Linked DNA regions of Homo sapiens: regions 1, 2, 3, 5 and 6 are each linked to region 4. Evidence: fine-mapped expression QTL. A gene starts in region 4. Each other region holds a variant in brackets. All regions are shown on one strand. Distances are between the middles of the regions.

What was found. PIP is the estimated chance that this variant, and not a neighbour inherited with it, causes the effect.
Region 1: its variant is fine-mapped to the expression of MEAK7 in whole blood (TOPMed, PIP above 0.99).
Region 2: its variant is fine-mapped to the expression of MEAK7 in tibial nerve (GTEx, PIP 0.98).
Region 3: its variant is fine-mapped to the expression of MEAK7 in whole blood (INTERVAL, PIP 0.98).
Region 5: its variant is fine-mapped to the expression of MEAK7 in whole blood (TOPMed, PIP above 0.99). The same link has a PIP of 0.9 or more in neutrophils.
Region 6: its variant is fine-mapped to the expression of MEAK7 in cerebellar hemisphere (GTEx, PIP 0.98).

What each region holds. Positions count from the first base shown.
Region 1 is chr16:84,538,715-84,543,785 of GRCh38, forward strand. No RefSeq gene overlaps it. Among named protein-coding and RNA genes, the nearest start is that of MEAK7, 37 kb to the left of the region's middle. RefSeq lists a silencer at 2,349-2,643. The variant G/A (reference allele first, on the strand shown) is at 2,291.
Region 2 is chr16:84,462,343-84,467,406 of GRCh38, forward strand. It overlaps ATP2C2 (ATPase secretory pathway Ca2+ transporting 2), which reads left to right. Exons shown (of 27, transcript NM_014861.4): 27 at 1,272-1,845. The coding sequence ends at 1,390. ATP2C2-AS1 (ATP2C2 antisense RNA 1) reads right to left here and starts at 5,019. Exons shown (of 3, transcript NR_146503.1): 1 at 4,962-5,019; 2 at 1-657. The variant G/T (reference allele first, on the strand shown) is at 2,591.
Region 3 is chr16:84,522,439-84,527,509 of GRCh38, forward strand. No RefSeq gene overlaps it. Among named protein-coding and RNA genes, the nearest start is that of MEAK7, 20 kb to the left of the region's middle. RefSeq lists enhancers at 1,542-2,125, 2,126-2,710. The variant G/A (reference allele first, on the strand shown) is at 2,864.
Region 4 is chr16:84,502,408-84,507,470 of GRCh38, forward strand. It overlaps MEAK7 (MTOR associated protein MEAK7), which reads right to left and starts at 2,252. Exons shown (of 8, transcript NM_020947.4): 1 at 2,194-2,252. It overlaps LOC124903736 (a long non-coding RNA gene), which reads left to right and starts at 2,395. Exons shown (of 2, transcript XR_007065149.1): 1 at 2,395-2,528; 2 at 4,939-5,063. RefSeq lists enhancers at 1,662-2,162, 2,283-3,230, 2,593-2,712, 4,840-5,063 and silencers at 1,993-2,042, 4,228-4,347, 4,331-4,567.
Region 5 is chr16:84,564,147-84,569,217 of GRCh38, forward strand. It overlaps COTL1 (coactosin like F-actin binding protein 1), which reads right to left. Exons shown (of 4, transcript NM_021149.5): 4 at 1,450-2,809. The coding sequence ends at 2,699. Among named protein-coding and RNA genes, the nearest start is that of COTL1, 51 kb to the right of the region's middle. The variant T/C (reference allele first, on the strand shown) is at 2,843.
Region 6 is chr16:84,256,249-84,261,319 of GRCh38, forward strand. No RefSeq gene overlaps it. Among named protein-coding and RNA genes, the nearest start is that of KCNG4, 19 kb to the left of the region's middle. The variant G/C (reference allele first, on the strand shown) is at 2,578.

The DNA of each region.
Region 1 (5,071 bases), 36 kb after region 4:
CAGCGTACACAGCATATGGTTCTGTGCTGTTGGAAGTTCGAGTCACGCTTACTGTTGAGGGTGACTCAATAGGGGGCATGAAGTGGGGCTTGGGGGCTGACACTAGTGTGTTATTGACCTGAATGCCATTGCATGGTTGTGCTTAGTGTGTGAGTGTTCTTGGAGCTGTACACTTCAGACGTGTGCACTTCTCTGTATATACTGTATCTCAATAAAAAATAAAAGTTGCTTCTCAGAATGGGGGCTTAAAAAATAAAAATAAGGCCGGGCGTGGTGGCTCATATCTGTAATCCCAGCACTTTGGGAGGCCAAGGCAGGCGGATCACCTGAGGTCAGGAGTTCAAGACCAGCATGGCTAACATGATGAAACCCCATCTCTACTAAAAATACAAAAATTAGCCGGGTGTGGTGGCACATGCCTGTAATCCCAGCTACTCATGAGGCTGAGGCAGGAAAATCACTTGAACCTGGGAGGTGGAGATTGCAGTGAGCCGACATCACGCCACTGCACTCCAACCTAGGCAACAAAGCTAGACTCCATCTCAAATAAATAAATAAATAAATAATACAAATCAAAAAGTAAAAGTAAAAGATAAATAAATAAACCTTTCTAGAGGGCTCACTGTGAGAAGCCTTAGGGAGGTTAAGGAGCTGACTCTGCCCCTCCTCAGTGCAACTCTTCCTTCCAGTCCTTGGTTTCCTTTGACTGCAGCTCCCTGACAGTAGATGTGATTCTGCGACACTCAGAATACCTCCTGGAGTACAGAGGTACGAGAGTGAACCAGTAGGCTCGACGCCCTAACGTACGGTGCCTGGATGTCCTTTTTGAATCTGTTGATGGTTTCTGTTTAGGTTCTGTTAACATTGGATGAGCACCCAATGTGCCAGGTCCTGGGGACACAAGGATGAGGAAGTCCCTGCCCTCAAAGAGCTCAGGATCTGGAGAGAAAGGACCCCTCAATTAGAGTCCAGTGTGTTAAATGCCCCCCAGGGAGACTCGGGAGGATGAGGGAGGCTGGGAAGATTCTACAGGCCCAGGGAGAGAGGCCAGTGGAGAATGAGGGGTGAGGGGAACTCCCAGTGGCTCAGGACCCACTAGGCCTCAATGTGCGATGGGCATCAAGAGGCTGAACTTGCTGGCATCAGGGGTCCTGCCAACACTCCTCAGAATCTCTGATTTACAGTATCGGGGTAGTCACATGAGAACGAAGCTCAGCTACAAGTGCACACTACAGCATTGTTTAAAACAGTGACAAAATGGAAAGCAAGCTACGTTTCCAAAGATGGAAGATTAACCCAAAGAATGATAGAGGGGCCAAATGAGGGGACTCTGGTAGAACCTGGAAGTGATGCTGGGGAAGACTGTTTCATGATTCTCAAGGCCCATGGATGAGCTGGGATTTGACCCTCTGTGAAAGCCCCCAGGTGAGCCTGCTGCAGTGCCATGGTTGCTGGCAGAAGACACGAGCCTCCTGGGTCAGAGACAAGTGACTTTATTACTCGCAGCACAGCAAGTAGCATGAGCTTTATGTTTGCATCGGTTTCCCTTGTCCCCAAGTCCCACAGGGGCCATGCAAAGGGGCCCGGAAGGGGTGGGTGTTGCGCACACAGCACATTTCTCACAGCTGAGGATCCCTGAGCTCAGGGAGCCCAAATTTCTTATAAGAAATCCTGATCCTTGCCCTGGGGGCAAACATCTATCTATATTGGACAGAAAACAAATTTGCCCTTTGATCTGAGGGGACACACTGTCTCTGTCTAACAAAGTTGTTTGCTATATAAACATCCTTGTAAAGATAGTTCTTCTACTTGCAAGACATGTAGAAACCTGAGAGACCCATGGAGAACTGTCTCCCAACAATGACACAGAAAGAAAATTTAGGCCGGGCATGGTGGCTCACGCCTGTAATCCTAGCACTTTGGCAGGCTGAGGCGGCTAGATAACCTGAGGTCAGGAGTTCGAGACTAGCTTGGCCAACAAGGCGAAACCCTGTCTCTACTAAAAATACAAAAATTAGCCAGGCATCATGGCATGCACCCAGCTACTTGGGAGGCTGAGGTGTAGTCCCAGCTACTTGGGAGGCTGAGGCAGGAGAATCACTTGAACCCAGGAGCCGGAGGTTGCAGTGAGCTGAAATTGCTCTACTGCACACCAGCCTGGGTGACACAGCAAGACTCCATCTCAAAAAAAAAGAAAAGAAAAGAAAAAATTTAGAGTCGCCAAGAAACAGATAACAAAACAGTATACATGTGTGAATCTGCACATTTGGTGTCTGCATGTGCATATTAC[G/A]TAGGCACTAATACAAGCCCAGCAGAATATTCCCACAAATGTTCACAGGGGTTCTTGCTGGGCTTTCGTTCTATGATGAACAAAATAGTGACCATTGTACCTAGTAATCAATAGCCAACCCTTGCTATATGTTTGTAACATTCCAACCCCTGTTCTGAGCACATTACAGGTATCACCTCATTTAATCCTCATGACAAGCTGTGAGTCAGGAGCTGTTTATCATCTCCATTTTCAAGATGAAGCAAACCGAGGCCTGGAGTGGTCACTCAGTGGGGATTGAGTAGAGTTAGGATTCTGAATCCAAGTAGTGTGGCTGCAGGCTCCATCCTTTTTTTTTTTTTTTAGACAGGGTCTCATCGTTGCCGAGGCTGGAGTGCAGTGGTGTGATCTCAGCTCGCTGCAACCTCCGCCTCCTGGGCTCAAGCGATTCTCCCACCTCAGCCTCCTGAGTAGCTGGGACCACAGGCGCACACCACCACACCTGGCTAATTTTTGTAATTTTTGTAAGATGGGCTTTTGCCATGTTGGCCAGGCTGATCTTGAACTCCTGACCTCAAGTGATCTGCCTGCCTCGGCCTCCCAAAGTGCTGGGATTACAGGCATGAGCCACTGTGTCCAGCTTCATCCTCTTAAAACCACATTCCTTATGCCTTGAATAAAGCCTTATTATTATAGCAGAAAACGCCCTCTTTCCAGCAGCCTTTTATTTATAGATTTAATAAGTCTAAAATAGAAAGACAGGAATTGTTTTCTCTACTCAGAAAATTAAGTGAATCGAAAACCGACCGTAGTGGAATATGACGACTGTGTAATAACAGGCAAATGCAAAAATGATCACATCAAATGGCAGTTTATATAATTTATATGAAGCAATATTGCAAATTTATTTTAAAATACATATGCACAGGAAAAAAGCACTAGAACAAGATATACGAAGCTATGACTGTGTTTGCTTTAGGGGGCTGAACTCTTGGTGAATTTATTTTCTTTACTCCATTTTCTGAATTTTTCATAATGCAGTTATAGTTCTTTTATAATGAAAACAGTTATAAAAATGTAAAAAACAAAATGAAACAATGAAACAGATCTTGGGCTAGTAGAGAAAGCGAAGTCTAATCTAGACTAAAGGCTGTAAATTGGCCACTAGCAGGTCTGACTTGCCTGAAGAATGTTTTGCTTGGCTGAGTCTTTGTTGTTTAAAAAAATATATGCATTAGCCTCTGTCACTGTAAAGTCAGGAGATTTCAGATAAAACTCCATCTTTCCCTGGACGCTTGTATTCCTATGACCCAGCAAGTCCACTCCTAGGATATACGCAATAGAAATGTACACACCAAAAGCCTAGAATGTCCTAGAATGTTCATAGCAGCTCTCTTCATAATAGCTTCAAATAAGAAACCACCCCAATACTCATCACAGTGGAATGGGTGAATAAATAGGGGTGTAAATTTGTGAAAATCATGTATTGGTTGATGTCTTCTGTCTCCCCAAAACATATACAACCAACCATGAAAAACTGTGCAAAAGTTGAGAAAGAATGATTTACAACTAAACCCTAAATTTGTATGGAGTTCAGACACGACGGGGAGGGAAAGCAGCCAGACAAAAAGTCCACCCTGTGTGTAAAACATTAACACAAACCAGCAAAGCCAAGCTCAGGTGTTAGGTCCAGGCAGCGGTCAGCTCGGGATGAGGGTGGGGGCTGTAGCCTCAACTTCCCAGGCTCAAGCCATCCTCCCACCTCAGCCTCCTGAGTAGCTGGGACTCCAGGCCTGCACCACTATGCCCAGCTAATTTTTAATCTTTTTTTTTTTTTTTTTTTGAGACAGAGTTTTGCTTTTGTTGCCCAGGCTGGAATGCAATGGTGCAATCTTGGCTCACTGCAATCTCCTCCTCCCGGGTTCAGGCGATTCTCCTGCCTCAGCTTCCCGAGTAGCTGGGACTACAGGCATGCACCACCATGCCCAGCTAATTTTGTATTTTTAGTAGAGACAGGGCTTTGCCATGTCGGCCAGGCTGGTCTCCAACTTCTGCTCCTGACCTCAGGTGATCTGCCCGCCTTGGCCTCCCAAAGTGCTGGGATTACAGGCGTGAGCCACCGCGCCCAGCCTTTAAATTTTTTTTTACAGTGATAGGGGTCTCATTATGTTGCCCAGGCTTGTCTCAAACTCCCGGGCTCAAGTGATCCTCTTGCCTCAGCCTCCAAAAGTGCAGGGATTGCAGTCGTGAGCCACTGCACCCAGCCCATATTTTTTTAAGTCAACCTACTGTGTGATTTTTTTTTCTGCCTTTCTCAGCATAACTCTAAGCAATAATGTCCACGAAGTCAGGGTTTCAGTGAGCTATAGAGTTCAGCAGTCAACAACACAGACAGTGGATCCAGAATGTCTAGGTTTAAAGCCTGCATCCTCTACAGTTGTGTGACTTTGGGCAAGTTACTTAAACTTCTTGGTCCTCAGTTTTCCCATCTGTAGAATGGGAATAATAATAATACCACATATCACAGGGTGGCCGAAAGGATTAAATGAGTGAATTATGTAGAGTTCTTAGAACAGCTGTGGGCATGCAGTGGTGTGCTGGTAACTGTTTAACAATGGCTTGGAAGGAAGGCCTTTACTGATTTCCAATTTCCCTGGTGTAAACACTTCCATTGTGGCTGATTTCAGGCTACCAATGAGAGGTCACTAAAGGTGGTTTTGGTAAAGGGGCCACTAGGTCATCCCAGGGTTGAAATAAGCAACTCTGTGACCACAGCCCAGATGTGCGTTTTGGAACAAAACC
Region 2 (5,064 bases), 40 kb before region 4:
GTCACTCAAGAGTAGTAGGGTCTGGGGCCCAAGGGGCACCGGCATCCCAGGCGTCGGGCTGGAGGCTCAGAGCACGTGCAGGGAGGAAGGAGGGAGCAAGGCCTGTACTCAGCCTGGGAGGTACCCCAGCTGGGGAGCCTGGACTTGACCCTGGGGCCAGTAATGTGACTTAGAGATCTGGTCACCTGAAGGCAGGGAGCTGGGCTGTCTTCCAGTTTTGGCTGAAAGGGACATGATTCAGTCACCGTGGTTTTCCAAGGGCACACGCCCTGGTGTGGAGCCCAGGGGACTCCCCGACATTGTCAGCCAAGCGAGTGTGGCACCTTTCTCTGAAGCTGCGGTTATGGCAGGCATGGGGCAAGGGGAGGGAGCCAGGGACAAGTCATCGACCCCACCCTTTTCCCCAGTGTGCTGAGAGCCAACCCCAACCCGGAATAGAGGACGAGGGAGGCCAGTGAGGCAGCCCCCATGGGCCCACCGCCTCCCCGCCGGCAGGGCCCAGAGTGGGTCATGGCTCAGATCTGGAGGGTCATGGGATTATGCATCAGACCTGAGGCTGCAGTGACAACGGTCCTATGACCTCCAGGCAAGACTGGGATGGTCAACTCTGCCTTGTCCTCCAAAAAGCAGTGTCAGTGTGGGTCACCAGTGAATGCCCTGTAGGAACAGACAAGAGGACCCCCCAAAACACTCTGCTCACTGGCTGTTTCCACCCGCCGGGAAGGAAGTCGGCTTCCCACGCCTGAAGGGGTTGTGCTTGGGCAGCCCGTACATCAGGAATCATCAACAGGGAGCCAGGGATGGTTCCTCAAAACAGCATGTGACAGGAGCAGAGGGAGACGCTGGGAATTCATCCCAGGGAACATGTCGCTGGGAATTCATCCCAGGGAACATGTCGGGGTGCACTGGACAGGGAGCCCAGACTGGTCACTCAGGACATTTGCAAGCAGCAGGGCACTGGGACAGCTGCTGTAGGGAAAGGAAACTCATTCCCCTTCCAGCCCGAGTCCATAACATGCTCCCAGCTGCCTGCCAGACCCACCCTGTGCTCTGGAGCTGCCTGGTGTTTGCCTGGAACCACAGGCAGGCCCTTCTGGAACTGCAGCATTTTGGATTCTGGGTTAGGAAGATCTCCCTGCCTTCAGGGGAATGAAAAGGGCTGGTCCTCCGCACCTCTCACTTTATCAGGAGGACTGGCAGGGAAGGCGCTTCCTGCCGGCGCAACAGAGCTGCAGCCCGTCCTGAATCTTTTCTGTTTTCTCCCTTGGCAGATTTGCTGTTTTTAACTGGATTGGCCTCATCCGTCTTCATTTTGTCAGAGCTCCTCAAACTATGTGAAAAATACTGTTGCAGCCCCAAGAGAGTCCAGATGCACCCTGAAGATGTGTAGTGGACCGCACTCCGCGGCACCTTCCCTAATCATCTCGATCTGGTTGTGACTGTGGCCCCTGCCGTGTCTCCTCGTCAGGGGAGACTTTTAGGAGGCCGCAGCCTTCCATCACCGGATCAGTTTTTCCTCTTAGGAAAGCTGCAGGAACCTCGTGGGCTCCAGGGACCCAGGCCCACATCCATCCAGCGTTCCCGCTGGCTGTGGGACAGACAGGGAGGGGCCTGTACAGAAACACCACACTGTTTATTAAATCACAATGATTTTTATTAACCATGTCTAACTACGTATCTGTGCCACAGCTTGCAGTGAGGCAGGCCACTCGTGGCAGATACAAGGGGCTCCTGAGAGGCAGTGGGTAGGATGGTCACACTCTGCCCATTGCCCTCCTGGAGGCCCCATTTCCTCATCATAAAATGAGGGACTTTTAAATAAAGTGCTATGCCGGGGGATAATTATTTTGATGTGTTTACCTAGGGTTTTTCATACAAGGGGCCAGGTTGGAAACCCACAGCCATGTGTTAATGGCCACGTGGGGTGAGCAGCAATCCATCATGAATGGCCTACAGGAAGGCCTCGGCTTTTGGACATAAAGAGTAGGGCTGGGCATGGTGGCTCACGCCTGTAATCCCAGCACTTTGCAAGGCCAAGGCAGGCAGATCACTTGAGGCCAGCCTGGCCAACACAGCAAAACCCTGTCTGTCTCTACTAAAAGTTTAAAAAAAAAAAAAAAAACAGTTGCCAGGCGTGATGATGCACACCTGTTAATCCCAGCTACTCGGGAGGCTGAGGCAGGAGAATGGCTTGAGTCCAGGAGGTGGAGATTGTACCACTGCACTGCAGCATGGGCAACAAAGCAAGAGTCTCTCTCAGAAAGTGGCCCTTCTCTCCGGAACCAGGAACTGTAGTATCTCCTGCTGCCTGCAGACAAGCTTGATTTCCCACTGCCCCAAAGACTTCCAAAAACCGATCTGCTCTTCCACGTGACAGATGGCAGAGGAGAGAGGTCTCCATGCTGTTCTTCTGCCTGAAGCCACGCCAGAACCACCAAAGGGAACCAGAAGGGGAACTCCGTCCCCATCTCTCAGGAAATAAGGCCAGAGCTAGAACCCCCCATTTACTAGTCAGGCCTCACTAGAGAAACAGAACCAACAGGATGGAGGGAGATGCAGAGATTTGTTTTAAGGAACTGGCTCATAGGAT[G/T]TTGGGGGCTGGCAAGTCTAACATCTTGAGGGCAGGCCAGCATCCTGGAGACCCAGGGAAGAGCTGGGGATGCAGGCTGGAGGCAGAATTTCCTCCTCCTCAAGGGAGTTCAGCCTTTTCCTCTTATAGTCCTCAACTGATCGGATGAGGCCCACTCACGTTATGAAGGATAAACTGTTTGTTTTACTTCAAGTCTACGGGCTTACATGTTAGTTACACAGCGCCATCTAGACCAGTGTTTGTTTGACGAAAATCAACTTGGCCTGGCCAAGTTGTCAGATAAAAGTACCCGTTGCACCCAGCCACGGTAGCTATGAAAAGGGCTACCAGGGGTGGTAACAGCTGGGTCAGACGAAGATAAGGAAGGTCAGAGTGGACCCCTGCCAGGGTTCCAGGCAGAGTCCAAAGTCCTCCATAGTAGGATTCACAGCCTGGGAAGAAGCCCCTCTCTGGCTACAACCTGTGACACCAGGGCCACAGGAGGAGATGCAGCGATGGGCCATTCCTAGTGAGACACAGACACAGGGCTGGCTGGAGAAGAAACCTTTTGAGCTGTGGGGCTGTCTTCCTAGAAGCTGCCAACCCCTGGAACCACTAAGAGGTCAAGGCTGAAGTGTGCCACTTCCACAGTCTGCTAAGGAGTGCCTCCCCCTGAGTCAGGGACAATTCTTGCTCTACTTTTCAGGATCCTTGGGCACACTGCTGGCCCGAGACATTTACTTCCCATTTAAAATTAAGTAATCAAAATACCAGGGTCGATTACTCTGAACTCTTGCTTATGTAAACTTTAGGGATAAAACTGTAGTAAGACACAAAATGCTAACAATAAAATATAAATTAGACTACATTAAAACTAAGACCTTCTTTTCATTAAGGACACAGTAGACTTGAACACCACCATTAAGCAACTTAGCTTGATTTACACTTGTAGAACACCCCATTCACGAGTAGCATAGAAACAGTCACCAAAATAAAGAGCAGAAATCAAACGAAAAAGCAAAAATAGAGGAAAATCAATCAAAACCTAGTTTTTCGAAGAGATCAATAAAACTATCAGTCTTGCAATAAGCTTATCAAAGAAAAAAGGGAAGAGAAATGACCAATGTCAGGAATGAAAAAGTATATCACCACAAACCCTTCAAGATATTCCAACAATAATAATAAATAATACTATGTACATCTTTATGTACCTAAATTCAATCAATTGGATGAAATAAACCAATTGCTTGAAAACCAAAAACTACCAAAACTCACTGAAGATTAAATAGATAAGCTGAAGTTGAAACCCTTCCAAAAAAGGCAGTTTCTGAAGCCAGATGATTTCACTGGTGAATTTTACTAAACTTGTAAAGAAATGGCAATTCGATACACTGAATTCCAAAAATAAAAGGGGACCGAGCACTTCTCATTTTATAAGGTCAACAATCACTCTGATACCAAAACTAGAGAAAAATACTAGAGACCAACATCCCTTATGAATATATGCACGAAAATCCTCAACAAAATATGAGGAAATCAGATCTAGCCAGGTACGAAGAATATAAGACACCAGGACGAAGTGGGGTTAATTGAGGAATGGAATTCAAGCATTCCAAAGTTCAACATTCAAAACCAATATAACTGAAAAGTTCAACATTCAAAAACCAATATAACTCACTATATTAATAGTCTGAAGAAGGAAAAACACATGGTTATATCAATTAATGCAGAAAAGGCATTTGATAAAATTCAATCTCCATTTGTAATAAAAACTCTCAAACTAGGAATTGAAGGAAACTTCTTCAACCTGATAAAGAACATCTACAAAAAACCTATAGCTAACATCATACTTAATGATGAAAAACTGAATTCTTTCCCCACAGGATAAGGTCCAAGGGTGACCAGCCTCACCACTCCTATTCAGCACAGTATTAGAAGTCCTAGCCAGTGTAATATGGCAAGAAAAGTTAAAAGGCATTAGCAAAGAGCCTGGAAAGGAGAAAATCACAGATAACGTAATTGTCCACACAGAAAATCCCAACAAATCTTTTTAAAAAAGAAAAACCCTCGTAGAATCAACGAGTTTAGTAAAGCCACAAGATACAAGGTTAACACACAAAAAGCAGTCGTATTTCTATATATTAGCAATGAACAACTGGAAACTGAAATTTAAAATTGAATACTATTTGTCTGTCTCAAAAAAAAGTATCAATTCTCCCGAGATTGTTGTATTAGGTTTAACACAATTACCATCAAAATCCCAGGGTTTTTTTGTTTTTGTTTTTTTTTAAGACACAGATAAACTTGTTCTAACAAGCTTGGTATGATATTGTTATCAGCAGACCTATTTCAATTTCACTGGTTTTTACATAGTATCTGATGTTAGGCAAACCTGAGTTTAAGGGCACAGTGCTCCAGGTGGCTGGCCAAGTCTGCCCAGGCCTTCTGATACTGACTGCAGGTCCAAGAGTTTCCCACAACCACCTTCAGGTTGG
Region 3 (5,071 bases), 20 kb after region 4:
GTGAGCCACCACGTCCAGCGGATTTTCCAATTTTTAACCAGCATCTGGGTGACATTGATATATGTAGACCAGGAAACACCCAGGAAGAAGCACTAATCTAAGACCTCACTGCTCAGAGGGTGATCCGGGACCAGCAGCACCGGCGTCGCTAGACAGCCTGTTAGGAAGGCAGCCTCCGGCCGCCAGGACCTACTGAATCGGAATCCGCATTTTAACAAGATCCTGGGAGACTCGTGTGCACCTTAAAGCTGACTAGGCGCTGCCCAAGGATGTCCCTGACCCAGGCTTGGAGGTGATGAGGGGACCCTTGGCGCTCTTGGGTATGGGCACTCCCAGCCCTCCATCTGCCTAGCCCCTTCTTCGGGGACCGGTATTGGAGCTCAAGCTCCAGGGCTAGAGCTTGATTTCTTCTGGAATAGATCTTGTATTTGTTTCCTGTAGCTGCTGTAACAAAGTATCACCAACTGGGTGCCTGAAAGCAACAAAGTCTTTTGTGTCACAGTTCAGGAGGCCAGAAGTCCAAAACGAGGCATCCACAGGGCTGGTTCCTTCTGAGCACTGTGAGGAAGAATCTGACCAGCCTTTCCGCTGCTTCACCTCAGGGGGTTGCCTGCAGTCCCAGGCTTGTGGCCACATTGCTCCAATCGCTGCCTCCAGCTTCACGTGGCCTTCTCTGTGTCCATCTCTTCTTCTTTTCTGCTTCTTCTGTTTTGGTTGGGTTTTTGTGGGTTTTTTTGAGACAGGATCTCACTCTGTCACCCAGGCTAGAATGCAGTGGTACGATCACAGCTCACTGAAGCCTCAACCTCCTGGGCTCAGGTGATTCTCCCACCTCAGCCTTCTGAGTAGCTGGGACCACAGGTGCCCCAACGCACCTGGCTAATTTTTTTTTTTTTTTTTCACTTTTAGTAGAGACAAGGTCTCACTTTGCTGCCCAGGCTGGTCTCAAACTCCTGGGCTCAAGTGATCCTCCTGCCTCTGCCTCCCAAAGTGCTGGGATTATAGGCGTGAGACACTGCACCCAGCCCTCTTCTGCCTCTTAGAAGGACACTAGTCATTGGATTTAGGACCCACCCCTAATCTAGGATGATCTCATCTGCAAAGACCCTCTGTCTAAATAAGGCCACAGGTGCAGGGCTTAGGACTGGACATGTCCACCATTCAACTCATGACAGGCCTACTCTGCGGCTCACACCTGTGAGTATTCAAGTCACTGTTCTCCAGGCAGTTTTACATCTGTTTGGTCTCTTTTCTTCTCCGGAAGGAAGAAAGGTTGTGTCCTCCTTTAAAGAGATTTCAGCCCTCTGCCAGTTGGCAGGGAGGCTGTGTGCATTCCCATGACTGGCTGACAACCCCGGTGACAGCTTTTTACACTCACCAGGAAACAGAGGGCAGAAAGGGGCAGCTAGGGGGCTGGAGCTCAGCAGCTCCCGCCTCGAAAGGATACCATGTGGGCACCACAGCCGGATGGCCCACAGAATGGGGGGAGCATCCTTTGGCCTTCAGACACAGCCCTACCCGCAGTCCTGCAGATTTCACGGACTAATCTGGGGCACCAACACCCAGGGGAGGCCACCAGGAAATGATCTGGCCCTGAATAAAAGAACGTTTGGCCGGGCACGGTGGCTCACGCCTGTAATCCCAGCACTTTGGGAGGCCGAGGCGGGCGGATCACAAAGTCAGGAGATCGAGACCATCCTGGCTAATACGGTGAAACCCTGTCTCTACTGAAGGTACAAAAAAATTAGCCGGGCGTGGTGGCGGCCGCCTGTAGTCCCAGCTACTCGGGAGGCTGAGACAGAATGGTGTGAAGCCGGGAGGTGGAGCTTGCAGTGAGCTGAGTTTGCGCCATGGCACTCCAGCCTGGGCAACAGAGCAAGACTCCATTTCAAAAAAAAAAAAAAAAAAAAAAAAAAAGAACGTTCATCTGGCTGTGCTTTTTGAAACCTCTAACACCTGACGCTAAGGGACCTGGGGGTTGGGTTGATGAGACCCACAGAATGGGAGGGTCCATGGCCCTGGTGAGCAGGCTTCAGGCAGCCTCAGAGCTCGCCTGAGCTGAGACACACACATGGATGCACAGACTTTGATAGCGCACGCTGTCGACCGCAGCCAACAGCTAGTTGAGTCAAAAGATCAGACCTCCTGTTGCTCTTGTTGTGGCCAGCAGCCCTGAGCCCCGCTGCCCTGCTGCCAGGATCTCGTGGGATGCTTAGACAAGCCCGGCTGCCAGGGCTGCTCCCAGACCGGCTGAGTGGCAAGCTCTGGGAGATGGGGTGCAGGCACCGGGGGTTCCAATGACCAGCAGCACCAAGAACCACTGGTATGTAACTATAATCTGTTGTCACACCGGCGGGAGCTTTGGGAAGACATGGGGCCTTGTGGCACCAAAGGGCAGCTTTAGGAACCTGCAGGTCTAGGTGGTTCCCATGTGGCAGCCTGTTTGAAACAGTGTTGAAAGTGCTTCCATCCTATGGGTCCCCCTGCAGCCCTCAGCCTGGGACCCCCTCCTCACCTTACCCCAGCTCCAATAACAGAATCCATCCCTCTTTTTGGGCTACTGTGTCTGTGTTCTTGGGTTTGTGGTGGCCATGGGGGTGCACGGCTCAGATCTCCCTGCAAGACAGAATCTGGTGGTGTCCCGGCTCCCAGCCAATGTGAGACAGGGCATGGCTCCTAGAGCCCGGCCACTCCGCCCCCTCCACTCAGTCCTCTCCTAGAGCCCGGCCACTCCGCCCCCTCCACTCAGTCCTCTCCTAGAGCCCGGCCACTCCGCCCCCTCCACTCAGTCCTCTCCTAGAGCCCGGCCACTCCGCCCCCTCCACTCAGTCCTCTCCTAGAGCCCGGCCACTCCGCCCCCTCC[G/A]CTCAGTCCTCTTTATTCTGGGCTCCCCGACTTTCTCATTGCTGCTCTGCAGGCTGAGGCTCTTCCCCGCTCCCAAACTGCCATCCTCCCTCCCCCTCCGCTCTGTCAGTGTCAGACACGTCCCACGGCTGAAGCCCTTCAGCACCCACTCCTCTCCCCAGTTCCTCGACCCACATGGGCATTACATCCAGTACATTGCTGGCACATCTAACTCCCACTCGGGATTCGAATCTGTTTCCCATGAGACTGGAACTGGCAAAGAGTGGTTTCTAGCTCAGAACTCATAATGTGTGCTTGCCCCCAAATCTAGGAATGGGATTCCAAAGACATGTAACAAGCGTCCTCGGTGCTCACACGTGGCCCCAGAGGCCCACGCCAAGCAGCAGCCTGCCCAGCGTGGGCCTCCAACACCTCTTCCTCACCCCTGCATGACCTCCTCTTCCGTGGATCTTTCCACGGCACTCTCCCTGATGTCAACATAAGCTGCTACCTGATCAGAGCCACCAGGATCCCAGACCTGCCAAACCGTTCATCCATTCACCAGCCCTACTTGGAAGCTCAGAGGACATGGAGACGTGTTAACTTTTAATTTTTTAATTTTTTAATTTTTTTTGGAGACACGGTCTTGCTCTGTTACGCAGGCTGGGGTGCGGCAGCACCATCACGACTCACTGCGGCCTCAACCTCCTGGGCTCAAGCGATCCTCCTGCCTCAGCCTCCTGGGTAGTTGGTTCTACAGGTGCACGCCACCACACGGCTAATGTTGTTGTTGTTGTTTTGGTTTCGTTTTTTAGAAACAGGGTTCTGGCCAGGTGTGATAGCTCAGGCCTGTAATCCCAGCACTTTGGGAGGCCAAGGTGGTGGATCACCTGAGGTCAGAAGTTCGAGACCAGCCTGACCAACATGGTGAAACCCTGTCTTTACTAAAAACTACAAAAAATTAGCCATGTGTGGTGGCGGGCACCTATAATCCCAGCTACTCGGGAGGCTGAAGCAGGAGAATCACTTGAACCCGGGAGGCAGAGGTTGCAGTGAGCCAAGATTGCGCCACTACACTCCAGCCTGGGCAGCAGAGCGAGACTCCAAGTCAAAAAAAAAAAAAAAGAAGAAAAAGAAAGAAAGAAACAGGGTCCCACTTTGTTACCCAGGCTGGTCTTGAACTGGGCTCAAGTGATCCTCCCACATCTACCTCCCAAAGTGTTGGGATTACAGGTGTGTGCCACCATGCTGGCCTGTTTGTTAATATTTTTGTCCCTGCCCCAAGGACACCAGCGTAATGGTTAAGATACTTTACCCTCACAACTCACTTTCTGCATTACTACTAAGCATCCCTTGGTTGTGGAAATGAAGGTCCAGGGAACGGGTGGCCATTTGCTCAGAAGAACCTAAGAGGGGAGCTTTCAGAGCCCCTGCCTCCAGAAACTGCCTCGAAGGCTCTCTGACCCCATCTCTTCTCCCTGAGCCTATCCTTGAAAATCACAACAGCCGCAAGTGATCAGGCCTCCCACCGCAGCCCTGTGTGCAGGGCAGTGTCTCCGCTCCAGACTGGAGGAGGGGTGTTTCCTTCTGCTCTTCCATCTCCTTCCTGCAGCCACGTGGACCCCGCCTCTGCTGCTGCCTTTTGTCTGGCAGCACCAGCCGGGCTAACGGTCTAAGCAGATTTCGTGCAAATCCCCGTCAGAAAGCACAAATCCACCCGGTCAGCACAACCAGGCAAGGGCTCCCCCTGCACACACGACAAGGAAGGGGGACCTTTCTCCCGCTCAGGAGAGTCATGTGATGCCTCGGGAAGGGGCAAACGGGTCCAAGCCTCAGCACACACCCACAGTGGAGGCCACAGCCTCGGAGAGCCCCGGGCGGACTGTTTTCTTTGTTAGGACTTAGAGTTCCCAAAGTCCTTCCAGTCCCTCTGCCAATCCCACTGTGGAGATGACAATTCCAGCCGCTCGTCAGCCCACAAGCTGGAAAACAGGAAAAGACGGTGGCTATTATTTTTGAGACTATGTTATTAATGACTCCGAGGGCTTTCCAATGGTGGCAGGCGGCCACGCTCACGGAAGCAGGGTGAGTCCTGGGATGTTTGATGTGCCCGTGTGAATCTTGGATGACGTGGTTAGAAGGAAGAGAAAAGACTCTCAGATTGAGCTACTTGCTGCTTTTGAGTCAGTATTTCTTTGAATGCTCAGAGGCCTCTTGCGGAGAAGAACG
Region 4 (5,063 bases):
AGGTGAGAAAACCTGGCTTCTGAGGATGTAGGGCAGCGGAACAAAATGGAAGCGGAACTTGATACAAGGGAACCCACAGAAGTCTCGAGGCCAATGTAGGGTTGTGTTATGCACAGCTTTGCAGAGAAGAGGCCACCCCATGTACCCAGGTGTACTGTGAAAGTCCCATGACACCGAGAAAACTTGCCAGGGACTGAAAGCTTTCCATCATCAAGCCTATAATCCCAGAACTTTGGGAGGATCATTTGAGGCCAGGAGTTTGAGACCAGCCTGGGCAACATAGTGAGACTTCGTCTCTGCCAAAAATACAAACCTCAGCCGGGTGTGGTGGCGTGTGACTATAGTTCCAGCTATTCAGGAGGCTGAGGTGGGAAGATCGCTTGAACCAGGAGGCAGAGGTCGCAGTGAGCCAAGATCACAACAGTGCACTCCAGCCTGGGTGACAGAGCAAGACTCTGTCTCATAAAAACACAAACAAAAGTTCCAGCAGCCCATAATAAGTGACCAAGATGTTTTGCTTGACCAGACTTTAGTCAGGCTCCTGGGCCCATCTGTGTACCTCTTTGTAAAATCTGGTTTTAGCAAAACAAAAAACAAACAAACAAAAAAACCCACAAAACCACTCATCCTTGATATTTGATCACCATTATCTGTTCACTTGCTATCTAACCAGGTTTAATGCTTAGGTTAGGGATATCCAATCTTTCAGTTTCCCTGGGCCACACTGGAAGAACTGTCTTGGGCCACACATAAAACCCACTAACAATAACTGATAAGTGCATATATCTACATATATGGTAAAAAAAAAATCTCATGTTTTAAGAAAGCTTATGAATTTGTGTTGGATGTCATTCAAAGCCGCCTTAGGCCACATATGGCCCACGGGTTGGACGAGCTTGCCCTAGGTGATGTCTGATCACCCTGGCCTGCCTTCAGTAACAAACTGCTAGGTAAGCTTACCCAGAATCCACCCTAGCGCCCTGATGTTTCCTCAGTCATCTTCCATCCACTGATCCCCACCCTGCTTCCTGGCTTCCCACTTGCCCATGCTATAATCAGAGTTGAGCCCAATCTCTCTCCTTTACTACAAAATCCCATTGCTGTGGTCCCTATACCCATTGCAATGGTCTTCAATAATTAATGTGCTTTTAATAAGCATCATTAATTAATTTCTTTAACATAAGGTTGAGAAGATTAAATAAGGTAACCCAGGGCATTTGATCTGCTTACTGGAGGTCAGAGACAGAATAATGGGCCCAAGACAACAGAGAATGGCTCCTTGGGATCTTGTCTTAGAACAAGAGAAACTGCCCTGCTTGGAAGAAACGGAAGGTTGCTCTGCCTCCGTGATGGAGGGGTGGACAGGGACCGATTGTCTGCAGGATGGCCCCCAAGGTTCCCACTAGTATCCTAGGAATGGCTTAGTCACCTCCTGCTCAGAGCTTCTCCAACAGGCTGTTACATGGCTGCTTCCCACCCTGGCTGCCAAGCTCCAACTCTCTACTCCAAGGGCCCCGCATCCCTAGAGCCACACAAGGGTCCCTCCGTACCCCCACAAGCTGGGGAGATTCCAACTGCCTCATCTGGACAGGCTTCGAAGTCCTGTCTGTGTCTCAGAGCCCAGAGGCCCTTGTGCGAAGGGGCAGCTTGAGCCTGGGCAAGAAGTTCCTGTGGGCCAGAAGGTGACCTGTCCTGTGCTGGCCACCTACATGGCCTGGGAACAGTTATCAGCTCACTGTCCTGGAAAAGCCCAGATGGGTGTGGTCAGAATACAAGAAGGAAAACCCCCTCCACACACACTTCAGTGTCTACCCCAGACTCGCCTCCTCCGTGGAGGCACCCCTCCCTTTCCGCGTCTACACAGGCTCTGAATCCCCCTTCAACACGGCTGGCCTTGGCCCTGGGGGAAGCACCTCGCCACCCTCTTACCTTGACCACATAAACAGCGGGAGGTGCAGGATGATTCTGATCCCCCCCAGGAGACCCTCCCTCCATCCCGCCCCGCTGTCCCCACCCCTCACCTCCCCGCAGCCTTCACCTCTCCCTCCCCCGACCCGAGGGCCTGAAGAGGCGTGGGAGGCCAGGGAGGGGCAGGGCCCAGGCCTACTCTGGACCCGTCTGCTCCAGTCCCCCGACTCAGCTGGGCCTGCGCCTCTGGGTCAGCTCACTGCGAACCTCAGCCCAGGTACCTACCCTGCCGGGCTTCCTGGTGCTGTCCGGTCCGGTCCAGCAGCCCACGGGCTCCTCTCGAGAGCCGCCCCTTCCCTGTTGCCAGGCAACATTGCTGAGGGGCAGTCATTTGGTCCAATCGTGGAAGCGGAGGTGTGGGGCGGAACCCAAGAGAGGAGTCAGCCAATGGTGACGCGCCTCACAGGGAGTGAGCCGAACCCGGTGGGTGCGGCTCGGGGCGGGGCCGCGGTCTGCGGGAGGAGCGGCTGCAGGCCCGGGAATCCGGCCCGGCTGCGTGCGTACCAAGGAGGCGCCTGGAGAGGGCGGCCAATGACTCAGGCCAGGCCAGGCCAGCAGTGGTACCTGGGGAGAAGGGGTGTCTGGGCTGGGCGCTGGAGCGGAGTAGCCAGGGTGTGGGAGATCCTGGGGGAGAGGCTGAGCTTGGGGGTGAAGACACCCGGGGGAGGAGAGTGGCCCATGTGGAGCCCATGCAGAGGCCTCTGCAGTGCAGCCTCCTGGGCCCCAGGCAACTCTCCCCTGACTCCCCGGCCTGCTGGTCCTGGCCTAGAGCCTCGGGTCCGCCTCCCCTCGGGCCTCCCTCTGCCAGCTGCCCCTGCCTCGCTCTTCCCTGGCACCAGGTCCTTCCCGGCAGCCATCAGGCGCCAGCTCCACAGCCTGGCTAAACAGACTCCCTCCACCCCACGTGCGCCTCTTCAGCCGGTTCCCGTTCACTCCAAGACGTCTGAACCTGTCACCCCACTTCTTCAGCTCGTTCCTTCTCAAACCCACCGAAACCTGGTCCCGGGGGCCTGCTCACTACATCCGAGGTGCGCTTTGGGTCCTCGCAGGCAGCATTTGGCGCTTGGTGATCGTGCTCTCATCAGACCTCTCTCTTGGGCACCCCGGCGCCCATTCCTGGCCCTGGCTCGCTCGCTGTCCCTGGTGGTCTTCCCTGGGCCCTTCTGGCTTCTGCCCTGGAGTTTCTCGACTTCTCCCTACTCTCTCCACCCCACGCATCCTCCCTGGGGTCCACCTTCCTGCAGATTCAGCTCCCGCATGTCCATGGTACCAGTTCTCTCCCCTGCACGGCCTGCTGGTTTTCCAGCCTGGAAAACCGTGACTTCGCCCGCCAACGTCCGCTTGAGTTGGTCTCGAACTCCTGACCTCAGGTGATCTGCCTGCCTCGGCCTCCCACAGTGCTAGAATTGTAGGGGTTAGCCACTGCACCCGGCTGGTCACCTCTTATTCTTTAAGCTGGAACAAAAATAGAAGGCTTTCTGCCTGAGGGCAGCAGGCCTGGCTGGTGACAGTGCACAAGGTAGGGCCCCTCACCAAGACATTGCTCTGAGATCCAAGGCCAATGTCCCAGGAGAAGCAGCTCCACAAACTAACGCATCTACAGCCAGGGTACCCCCAGCTGTGGATGCCAATGACACGAGTAGCCCCAGCTCTTCACCTCGGCTTCTTAGAGTAGGTGCCTGTCACCTGCAGCCAGGGCTCCTGATGCCCAAGACACACGGGCCTTTAGACATGAAGGACTAGACCCTGTTTCCAGCCTTCACACCCCTGTACTTCCTGCACACATCAACCAGGTGTGTCTTTTTCAGTGCCATCCGAGGTAGTGGCATTTTTGACATAGCAACAGTTTTTTGTAGGCTGAGGCACACCAAGGGTGGACAGCAATGGTGGCCTCTCAGGTGCAGGTACTGGGGGGTCCGCAGGAGCAAACCGGAGCCGATGTGTCAGCCTGGGCAACATAGTGAGACTCCATCTCTACAAAAAATGAAAAGCTTGGCCGGGCGTGGTATGGCACACCCGTAGTCCCAGCTACTCAGGGAGCCGAGGCAGGAGGATCGCTTGAGCCTCAGAGGGCGAGACTGCAGTGAGCCGTGATTGCACCACTGCACTCCAGCCTGGGCAGGAAAGTGAGATCTTGTTATTAAAACGGTGAAACAAAATCCCCCAGAAAACCACAGAAGCAAATGCGGAGCGGCGCCGTTTGAGAGCTACCGAAGTGGCGCCACCTCGTGGCCATACCCTCCAGAAACAGCCTACACTCCAATCTGCCCACCTGCCTGGTTGGAAAGTTTCTGTTTTTGATGGAGTTTCACTCTTGTTGCCCAGGCTGGAGTGCAATGGCGCAATCTCGGCTCACTGCAGCCTCCACCTCCCAGGTTCAAGCAATTCTCCTGCCTCAGCCTCCCGAGTAGCTGGGATTACAGGCATAGGCCACCACACCCAGTTAATTTTTATATTTTTAGTAGAGACGGGGTTTCACCACGTTGGCCAGGCTGGTCTCGAACTCCTGACCTTAGGTAATCCACCCACCTCGGCCTCCCAAAATGCTGGGATTACAGGCATGAGCCACCGCCCCTGGTATTCTCAATTTTTTTAAATAAGAGATTTATATTGCTTGACATTTTGCATATAAAGTGAGACTCTTTTAAAAATATACATCATGCTATTTCAACAAGCTGGTGCTCCCGGGGATGTCCATGGGCTGTCCAACTGCCCCCGGGGCACCAGCTTCTGTTTTTTATGCTGACTTTGGGCACTGAACTCTCCTTGGCTCCCAGAGGTCCTGACCAGGCTGGTCCTGCCATCCACAGCGGTGCCTCTGCTAGCGACATCCCTGCCCAATTTTCCATGTCCAGCTTTGACACCTCCACAGAAAGGCTGAGCCACCACCGGGCCCCCATTGTGGCTGAGCATCCACTCTCTCTTCCCCATGTGCTCCTTGCCCCCGACTCCCCATCTCTGGAACCCAAGTTTGGGCTGCATGGACCACCTTCTGGGCCAGGCTGTTAGGAGGCCACCACCAAGCAGCAAACGCAGGAGCAGCCGTGCCCTGAGGAGGCACCACCAGCAGCCTCCAGCAGCACTCGGTGAGGCGG
Region 5 (5,071 bases), 62 kb after region 4:
TGCTTTGGGGCAGGGAGTGGGGTGGGCAGTGGGCCTGGAGGAGGGCTTGGCCGACCAGGAGATTCCAGGAGAGGATGGAAGGCTTGCGGGACGCAGTGCATGAGTGACATGAAGTCATGCACCTACTGAGCCCATGTTCTGAACGGAGCTAAAACCCGTGCACTGGGAACGGACCTAGTTTAGCTCCCTCAGCTCTGGGTATAGGAAAAGACGGAAGCCCACAGAGCTAACAAGACCAGTGGCAGGCGTGAGATAAGAACACTGCACCCTGACAGGCGCCCTTTGCCTGCACAATCCTCGCTGCTCCTTAAGCCTTTCTACACGTAGGCAATGTTGTCTATTTTGCAGATGAGGAAACCGAGGCTGAGAGGTTAACTAAATTGCCTAAATCCACACAGCTGTGAACAGATGAGCAGAAATTAGAACCCAGACGTGGCTGGGGCGGGCTGGGGCTGGGGAGGGTGGTGACCTATGGCCCCCTGCCACCCTGGGCAGCATGATCAGGGCCTTGCCCATACCTTGTAGGATTCCTTCCTGCCCTGATTTCGGCTTCTGCCCTCTCTCCGCACTCTCCCTGCCCCACACTCAGCTCCTCCAAGCCCCGCTGTCTGTGTCTGAAACTCCTCTGCCCTGATTCTGGGCTCCCACAGGGTCTGGTGTGCTGGAAGTCCAGTTTCTCAGCTGTAGGATAACCTCAGAAAGGATGTCATGGCCAACGAGGAAGATGCTTTCTCTTGGCTTTTCCTAAACAGGCAGACAGGGGAGTTCTGGCCACTCAAAAAGAATCACTACCTGTGGTCCCATCGCTATCCCAAATGTGTGGCCTCCCCGCTCCCCTCACAAGCCACAGCACCAGGGACTTTGAGAGATCTCAGTTCAAATCCCAGCTCTGGCCGGGTGTGGTGGCTCACGCCTGTAATCCCAGCACTTTGGGAGGCCAAGACGGGCAGATCACCTGAGGTCAGGAGCTCGAGACCAGCCTGGCCAACATGGCGAAACTCCATCTCTACTAAAAATACAATAATTAGCCAGGCATGGTGACGGGTACCTGTAATCCCAGCTACTATGGAGGCTGAAGCAGGAGAATCTCTTGAATCTGGGAGATGGAGGTTGCAGTGAGCTGAGATCTCCCCACTGCACTCCAGCCTGGGCCACAGAGTGAGACTCTGTCACCAAAAAAAAAAAAAAAAAAAATCCCAGCTCTGCCACTTTCTATCTGGGTGACCTCGGGTGAATGAATCCCTCTGAGCCTCAGATTTCAGGAAATGGGGACAAAAGCAGCACCTGTTTCTTATGGTTGCTAAGAATTAAATAAGCAATTGAATGTGAATGTGCCCCGCCTCAGCAGCTCCGCAAACACCTATTAAATCTGAAGGCGATGATGACTGCCTCTGTTATTACAGCAAAAAAAAAAAAAGAACTTTGTAGGACAAATCAGAAACCAAACTGTTTTCTGAAAAACAAAAAAAACATTTATTTCTGTAAACTGTCTGAGTGCAGAGATGTTCTTTACAATCCCAATACAGTACAGATTTCTTCCCCAAAACGAAATGAGCAAGGAAAAACAGAAAAAGAGCTATATCAAATGTGCTCATGAAGAACCAAGCCAATCTCACCTTTCTTTAAAAACAAAACAAAACGATCCTTTTGAATGTGTGGTGCAGACGCAGGACTGAAGCCACAGGCTTTTGGGGTGCTGTGAGCCCAGGGCTTTGCTCAGCTCACAGCTAGCGCGGCGGGCAGAGCAACCCTTCGGCCCAAGCCATCCTCGCAGCTTACACAGAAGCTTCCTGAACCTAAGGGATCCGTTCCCAGCTCTCCTTAAATTCCCAGTCCCCACCCTGGGCCTCTCTCCCTAACGATCTTGTCGCTTTGGGAGCCCCTGAAGTGAACCCTGAAATACTCCCTCCGTCAACTCTGGGCTCAGACCTTTGCCCTTCTCTGTGTCACAAGGAAATTTCGGTCAAGAGGGTGGGAACAGGTGGTTTCAGACCGTGCAGCAAAGCCACTGCCAGGTAAGTTTTAAGGCAAATTTTATCTCTTCTTATTCAGTCTGAGCCGGACCTAACCTTCTCACCACCGAGCAATCCTGCCTATGCTGGACATGCATCTTAGGCAACTCCGGATGGAGGTGGGATGAGGGAGCCCGGGGCAGATACCAGGAGGTCTGGGCCTTAGTAGGGAATGGACGTGTGTGCTTATGAAGGCTGCAGGCACCGGGCACAGCTCCTGGCCCAGCTGCCCCTCAGTGGTACACAGGAAGCAGGGTCCAGGAAAACTGAGATGGCAAAATAGGCCCGGGCTCTGGAAAGCAACGTGAGGTCATGCAGATCTCACTAGGCAGACCTCGTCGCGTGGAAGAGAAATGCCAGGAAAAGGGGTCACTGCAGGAGGCACCTCGGATCTGATGGCAGGCAGGACCTTGCATCAAAATGACTTTTCTTTAGAACAAAAAAGAGGGGGAGAAAAGAAAAAGAAGATCAAAGAAAGAGGTTCCATGAGCGTCATGAGATAGGACACGGCAGGGTTCTAAGGGAAGCGGGAAGGTGGGGGCTGTGGACACAGGGTGGCGGGCGCTGCCTCTCATGGCTTCTTTTCTCCCTGGTGGGCTGGTGGGCTAGTAGCTGAGGCCGGCGGTCCTCTCCCCCGGGGAGCAGGCAGATGACTTTGGCAAGGGGTGGTGTGGCGGGGGCTGGGGTTACTCCGTCTGGGCGTCGTAATTGGCTCCCCCCGCCTTCTTCAGCTCGCTCTTGATGAAATCTTCCTCCAGCTCCTTCCGATCACTGATCACAAACTCCTTAGCGAAATTCTGCAAGAACAAAGGAAAACACAGCGTTCCTAT[T/C]AAGAAGGAAGGCACAGGATGTGAGGGTGGCTCAGGCAACACACTGGGAAGCAAAGCACTGAAAACCCTGATGAGAGATGGAAATGGAAATTCAGCAGCAGAGTCAGTCAATGGAAATTCAGCAGCAGAGTCAATGGAAATTGAACAGCAGAGTCATCTGGCAGAAAAAACCTGACTGGGAGGAGGGAGTGGGGCAGATCTGATGCTGCGTCTTCCCATGTCCGTGGGGATGGCCCGAGGAAGCTGGGGCTTGAATTTGGGCTGTTACCTTGGCCAAGTCCCTTCAATTCTCTGTGCCTCAACTTTCTCATCTGTAAAAAACTATCTCGTCAGGAAAATAATAGGTTACGAGGTTGGAAAGGCTCACGGGTGTGCAGGCACTCCAAAAAAAAGAAAAGGACAAAAGCTCAGATTGGTGTCTTTTGCCCATATCCATGATGTAAATAGTCCCCCAGTGGCTGACGTCAAGCTATCAAAGTGATGTCACCATACGTGGAGGTGGAAGGAGACAGGCGTAATTGGCTCTCGCCAGCTGGGACAAGCAAGCTTCAGCCACCAATGTTCCTAATGACGCAGGAGCCTCCAGTCCTGGGTCTGCCATGGGCTCTCCACCCGCACTGAGTTACACGAGGGTAGAGGCTCTGCCTTCTTTCAACAAATACCACGCCAGGCTGTGGGGCTACAGGGCTCAGCAAAATGGATGCAGTCAGTCTTTCCTCTTGCAGTACACAGGTTTCACCCATAGAACCCGCAGGCACCCATGATGCACTCAGTAAACGCTTGTGGCATGAATGAGGGAACCAGGTGACCTGGCTTATCAGACACCCTTAAGCCATGATGATACACAGTTACTGCCATATGTGGATCATAAGACTTTAACAAACAAAATTTCAGAACGATGACGGACAGCTTGACAAAAAAAAGCTATCAAAACCACAAATAACACGTCTAAAGGTAAGAAAATCATCCACATTAAAAAAAAAAGCCCATAAGGAAATAACATAAACAATGACCACCATTTTTCTTTTTCTTGAGAGAAAAGCCTGTTGCCCAGGCTGGAGTGCAGTGGCGCAATCTTGGCTCACAGCAACCTCTGCCCCCAGGGTTCAAGCCATTCTCATGTCTCAGCCTCCCAAGTAGCTCGAACTACAGGCGTCTGCCACCACACCCAGCTATTTTTTGTATTTTTAGTAGAAGCAGGGTTTCGCCACATTGGCCAGGCTGGTCTCAAACTCCTGGCCTTAAGTGATCCGCCCAGCTTGGCCTCCCAAGGTGTTGGCACTACAGGCGTGAGCCACCACGCCCGGCTAACCACAATTATTAAGCACTTATGTGTACCAGCACAGTGCCACAGTACTGAGAATGACACACAGTAGTAAATATGAATCATGGAAGGTGGAAGCAACCCCTATGTCCATCAACAGAGGAGTGGATTATCAAAACACGGTCCGTCCACACAATGGAATATTCCTCAGCCACAGAGAGGAATGAAGCGCTGCCACACGCAACTACATGGATGAACCTCGGAAACAGGATGCTGAGTGAAAGAAGCCAGGCATGAAGACCATGTACTGTCAGCTGCCATTGGTATAAATGTCTAAAAAAGGCAAACCCATACAGACAGAAAGCAGACTCGTGGTTACACAGAGCTGGAGATGGGAACAGGAAATGATAGAGACGTTCTAAAATTGGGATTGTGGTAATGGGTGCACAACTCCACAAATTCACGAAAAAGTACTGAAAAAGTACACTTAGGATGACTTGATTTTGAGGTACATACATCATACCTCAATCAAGTTCTTTTTAAAAAGGCCCGTAAGGTGATCAACATTATTTCCATTTTAAAGGTGAGGAAACAAAGGCTGGAAATTACAATGCTTGTCCGAAGTCAGACAACCAGAAGGTCCAGTTGATGCCAAAGCTGGCGTCTTGAAAGAGCCACCATCTCCTTTTGGGGTGATGAAAAAGTTTTGGAACCAGACAGAGGTAGGGCTTGCACAACACTGTGAATGTTCTGAAAGCCACTGAATTGTACACTTTAAAATGGTTCAGGCCAGGTGCGGTGGCTCACGCCCGTCATCCCAGCACTTTGGAGGCCGAGGCAGGCAGATCACCTGAGGTCAGGAGTTCGAGACCAGCCTGGCCAACATGGCGGAACCCCATCTCTACTAAAACTACAAAAATCAGCCGGGCGTGGTGGCGGGCGCCTGCAATCCCAGCTACTGGGGA
Region 6 (5,071 bases), 250 kb before region 4:
GCACTTCGTGTGAATGAATCTGTGTGTTTTACCAGAAACACCAACTCGGTTTTATTGCTGGAAATATCTCATAATTTGCTTTCACACCTTTTAAGAGCTATTTTCTCGAGACATACTCGGCTTTTATGAAGATTTTGAAAATCTAGGGCAGTGATTTTCCTTAGAGGGGAGCAAGAAGGTCACCAGGAAAGTCTGCTGTCCTCCCGTGGATCCTCATTTTTCTAGAGTAAGTATTTAATCAGGCAAGATTGAGAAGCTAAAAGCAATAGAATAATTGACCTAATTTTTTTTAAGTGCAGAAGTTTTGTTCTTTGCCTGAACACAAACATATTTCTTATTCTAAAAGGATTTTTAAAAATTTGTTTTGCTGTCAGCAAAAATTTAGGCTTTTGCACATAACACTTTTGCTAGCTAAGTAAATAGGAAGGACAGACAAGACTATCCACTGTATATTTAGTCTGAATGAGCAAAAAGTGGTGGAGAGGTCGGGGTTACGGTCTCCTTATCCCAGTAAAACTAGGAGACTGAGACCCTCCAGCAGTGTTATGCTGTGGGAACAGGGCTGGCCTGGATCTAAGGAGTTAGGGTTAAGCCAGAGCTGGAAGTTTGTCAGTTATACACCTGGTGTAAGAGCTAGCATGGAAGGAACATACAATAAGTGATGAAGGGATGGATGGATGATGAACAGATAGATGGACGGATGGTTAATGGATTGATGGATGAATAGACAGACGATGAACGGATGGATGGATGATGGATGGATGGATGGACGGATAGATGGATGAATGAACAGACGTTCGAATGGGTAGATCTCTTTCCACTGTCCTAGGCTGCCTGAAGGTCTTGAGTCTTGGATCTTCTTGTGAGCTATCAATTGCCTGCTCGATAATGAAATACCAGTTGAGACAAATTGGCCATGAGAGACATTTTTGGGTAAATTGAGATCATTTGAATTTGGTCTGGGTATTAGATGAGGTGAAATCTTACTGGAATGAGAAGATGAAATTTATTGACCAAAAAAAGCAAGCACAGAATGTTGTGTAATCTTGTTTGGGTTGAAAAACTACGTATACGTATAAATCCAAATGCTGGCTCTCACAAAACACTATCAAAATGAGCTCCCGAGAAGACAAAGTGGAGTGTTCTGCTAGACTGCATCACCTTTTTCCCCCCGTGGATCTCTGCTCATGCTGTTCCCACTGCTTGGAACGTCATTTCCTTCCCACCCTCCACCTTCCCCAGTTCCTACTCATCCTCCCGTGTGCAGCTTCACTGTCTCTCCCTCAGGGAGTCTCCCCCGCTCTCTAGGTTAGAAAACCATATGCACGCTCTTGGCTCTCATTAGATCGTAATTTTTTAAATGTTTGAAAATGTTTGTAGCTAGCACAACACAACACATTCCCTGAATGTGTGCAGTAGGCATTCAAAAATGTATTTCTAGGTTAATTATGTAAAAAGAAATGTTATGGAATGTGTTGTTTTTTCCTCCTCCCTTCCACAGGATCCTGGCGTGTTCCAAAAAGAGAATATTTGCTAATTTGACAAAATGCTGGAAGATATAGAAATTTTTTTTTTTTTTTTTTTTTTAGACAGTGTCTCACTCTGTCGCCCAGGCTGGAGTGCAGTGATGCGATCTTGGCTCACTGTACCCTCTGCCTCCCGAGTTCAAGAGATTCTCGTGCCTCAGCCTCCTAGTAGCTGGGACTACAGGTGCCCACCATCACGCCTGGCTAATTTTTGTATTTTTTGGTAGAGATGGGGTTTCAGCATGTTGGCCAGGCTGGTGTCAGATTCCTGGCCCCAAGTGATCTACCCACCTCAGCCTTCCAAAGTTCTGGGATTATAGTCATGAGCCACTGTGCTTGGCCTGGAAGAGATAGAAATTCTTTTAGCAATGTAATACCAAGAGCTGGGTTAAGAGGAGCCCCATCTAGCAGTAATGCGGTTGGAAGGTGGTGTTGGTGAACTCCCTGTGAGAGGGGAAGCCAGCTGGACTTCCTGGGTCGATTGGAGACTTGGAGAACTTTTCTGTCTTACAAGAGTTTGTAAAATGCACCAATCAGTGCTCTGTAAAAACACACCAATCTGCGCTCTGTAGCTAGCTAGAGGTTTGTAAAATGGACCAATCAGCACCCTGTAAAATGGACCAATCAACACCCTGTAAAATGGACCAATCAGCACTCTGTAAAATGGACCAATCAGTGGGACATGGGTGGGGACAAATAAGGGAATAAGAGCTGGCCTCCCCCAGCCAGGAACGGCAACCCGCTTGGGTCGTCTTGCTTTGTTCTTTCCCTCTTAACAATAAATCCTGCTGCTGTTCACTCTGGGTCCGTGCCACCTTTAAGAGCTATAATACTCACCGCGAAGGTCCGCGATTTCATTCTTGACGTCAGTGAGACCACGAACCCACCAGAAGGAACCAACTCGGACACACCTACAGATGGGAAGCCCCTCCCTTTGGTCCACACAGACCCAGAAGGACTGAGAAATGGAGAACCCTTGGGGTAGGGAAGGAGGTCAAGGGTCCTTGAAGAGGAGAAGAGAGAGGGGGTCTGAAAGGGAGAAGTCATGGTG[G/C]CTTGTGACACAGAACTGAGAGCTTTCAGGGGAAGGACCTTGACAGTTTCAGAAGAGTTGAATGACGGAACTTTCTAGACCCCCACACCCTCCAAACCCCTGGGCACTAGATTGGAGACTATGACTAAAATCCAAAAGAAAGGACTCTTTTTGTTTATTTTTTTTACATTCCAGGTAGGGCTTGCCTAGCTAAAAATGAGAGCATTTATTACTGACCCACCATCTCTTTCTTGGGAATAGGGTGGTAGGTTATAGAAAACAAGATTTATTTTTCTTCCAGATAACTTCCATATTTTCTCAATGTTCTTATATGTGTATGTGTAGATCCAAATGCCGGCTCTCCAAAAATACTACGACAATGAAAACGGAGTGGAGTGTTTCGCTCTGTCGCCCCATCTTCCCTCCTCCGGTCTGTGCACCCACTGCATGAGCACGTGGTGTTGTCTTAGATAATTTGAGCTGCTGTAACAGAGTACCACAGACTGGGTAGCTTATAAACAACAGAAACGTATTTCTCATGGTTTTAGAGAGGCTGGAAGTCTGAGATCAGGGAACCCGCCACCGTGGTTGGGTTCCGGTGAAGGCCAGCTTTCAGGCAACAGACTGCCAACTTCGTGTTTCAACCTCACCTGAGGGAAGAGGGCAAGAGGGCTCTCTGGGGTCCCTTTTATGAGGGCACTAATCCCTTTCATGAGTGTTCCATCCCTCTGACCTCATTACCTCCCCAAAACCCTTCATCCTACTACCACCCAACTGGGGGTTAGGGTTAGAACATATAAATGAAGATGGGGAGAAATACAAGCATTCAGTCCATAACCAATGGTTTGAATATTTGTACAAAATTTATGTCTACAGAAGATACTCGAATACACACGCTTATCTCAAACAATCCCTGTTTCCATCTTGTCATGCATATTTCCAGACCCATAGAGTAGTAAATGGTTGAGAGCTGATGGCATCCTTTCCATCTTAACCTCAGGGAGCCCTCCCAGCAACTTTGAGATAGAGACGCTTTATAGTATCTTTTTACAGATGAGAAAACAGAAGCTCAGAGAGGTCAAGCAACTTGTCCAAGGTCACACAGCAGTGAGGAGAATGTGAGTGAGATTTGAGCACCGGCATTCTAAGTCCACACTCTTAAATACTCTACTGGACTGCTCCCTCTTTATAAACCTAGCAAAATTAAAATGCAAGTATATTTTTGTGATTTAAAGGTGAATTTATTATTTGTTTTTTTCATTTTTTTGTATGTGAATTTTTCTCTCTCTTTTTTTTTTTTTTTTGAGACGCAGTCTCACTCTGTCACACAGGCTGGAGTGCAGTGGTGTGATCTCGGCTCACCGCAACCTCTGCCTCACCAGTTCAAGCGATTCTCCTGCCTTAGCCTCTTGAGTAGCTGGGACTACAGGAACCTGCCACCCCACCCAGCTAATTTTTGTATTTTTAGTAGAGAGACACGGTTTCACCATGTTGCCCCGGATGGTCTTGAACTCCTGACCTCAGGTGATCTGCCCGCCTCGGCCTCCCAAAGTGCTGGTATTACAGGCGTGAGCCACTGCACCTGGCCAAATTTATTTTTTTTAATAAGGAAAGGAGAGGATGGTGGCCTGCTGACAGGTGCAGAGGTGCCTGATGATTTGTGTTTCCTAACTGGCTTATACCATGTGACTAAGAAGGTGGCAGAAGTGATGCCACCTGTCCACGGGAGTTTTCTGGTACATCCTGGGAACTGGTCTTTTATGATCATGGCAGAAAACACAGCTCTGGTAGATTCAAAAGACCCCTATGTCCAGTGTATGCTCAAAGTATGGAACTAAGCATACCTGTGGTCCTGGGAAGTCCAGATGGCCATCTCTTCCAGGGATCCTGCTCTCTCTGGCATACCAGGCAGTCTTTTATCAGCTTTGTGTCCATGTCAGAGTACACCTCACCAGGCACTCCTTTGCTCCTGGTTGCCATCTCAGCCCTGGTGCATCTTGTGGCCCTTGCAACGATGAAGCATGACGATGTTGCAGGGTGCCCTTGGGCAGGACCCTCTCTGGTGGCCAGGAATGCGAGTGGTGAAGACGGGAGCTTTGTGGTAAGGTGTGCATGTGCTGTGGCTCTGCTGCAGGAGAGGAAGAGAAGCCGTTCAGCCCCACGCCCAGCCCCTTGCAGACCGCGTCCAAGCAAGTTCTGAGCTCTGGCTCCGGCAGCTCGTAATGCAAAGGGGCCACACTCGCATCCCTCGACTCCGGGACCCCCAGCGTCTAGCCTGTCCTCCCTGTGTCATGTGGAACTCCTTTTCAGAGAGGCAGCAGCCCATTCGACACCTTCCAATTCTATTTTCCAAGCTGTGAGCGCATAACCACCAGCCACTGTTTGTCTCTCATAGGAATTTAATTGCTTTTGGTTGCACCGCCTCACTAAGATTGTAGGCATTCAGGCTTTCAAGATTAGAATATGAAGAGAAATTAATTATTTAAGGACATGCATTTGAACTTGAGATAGACTA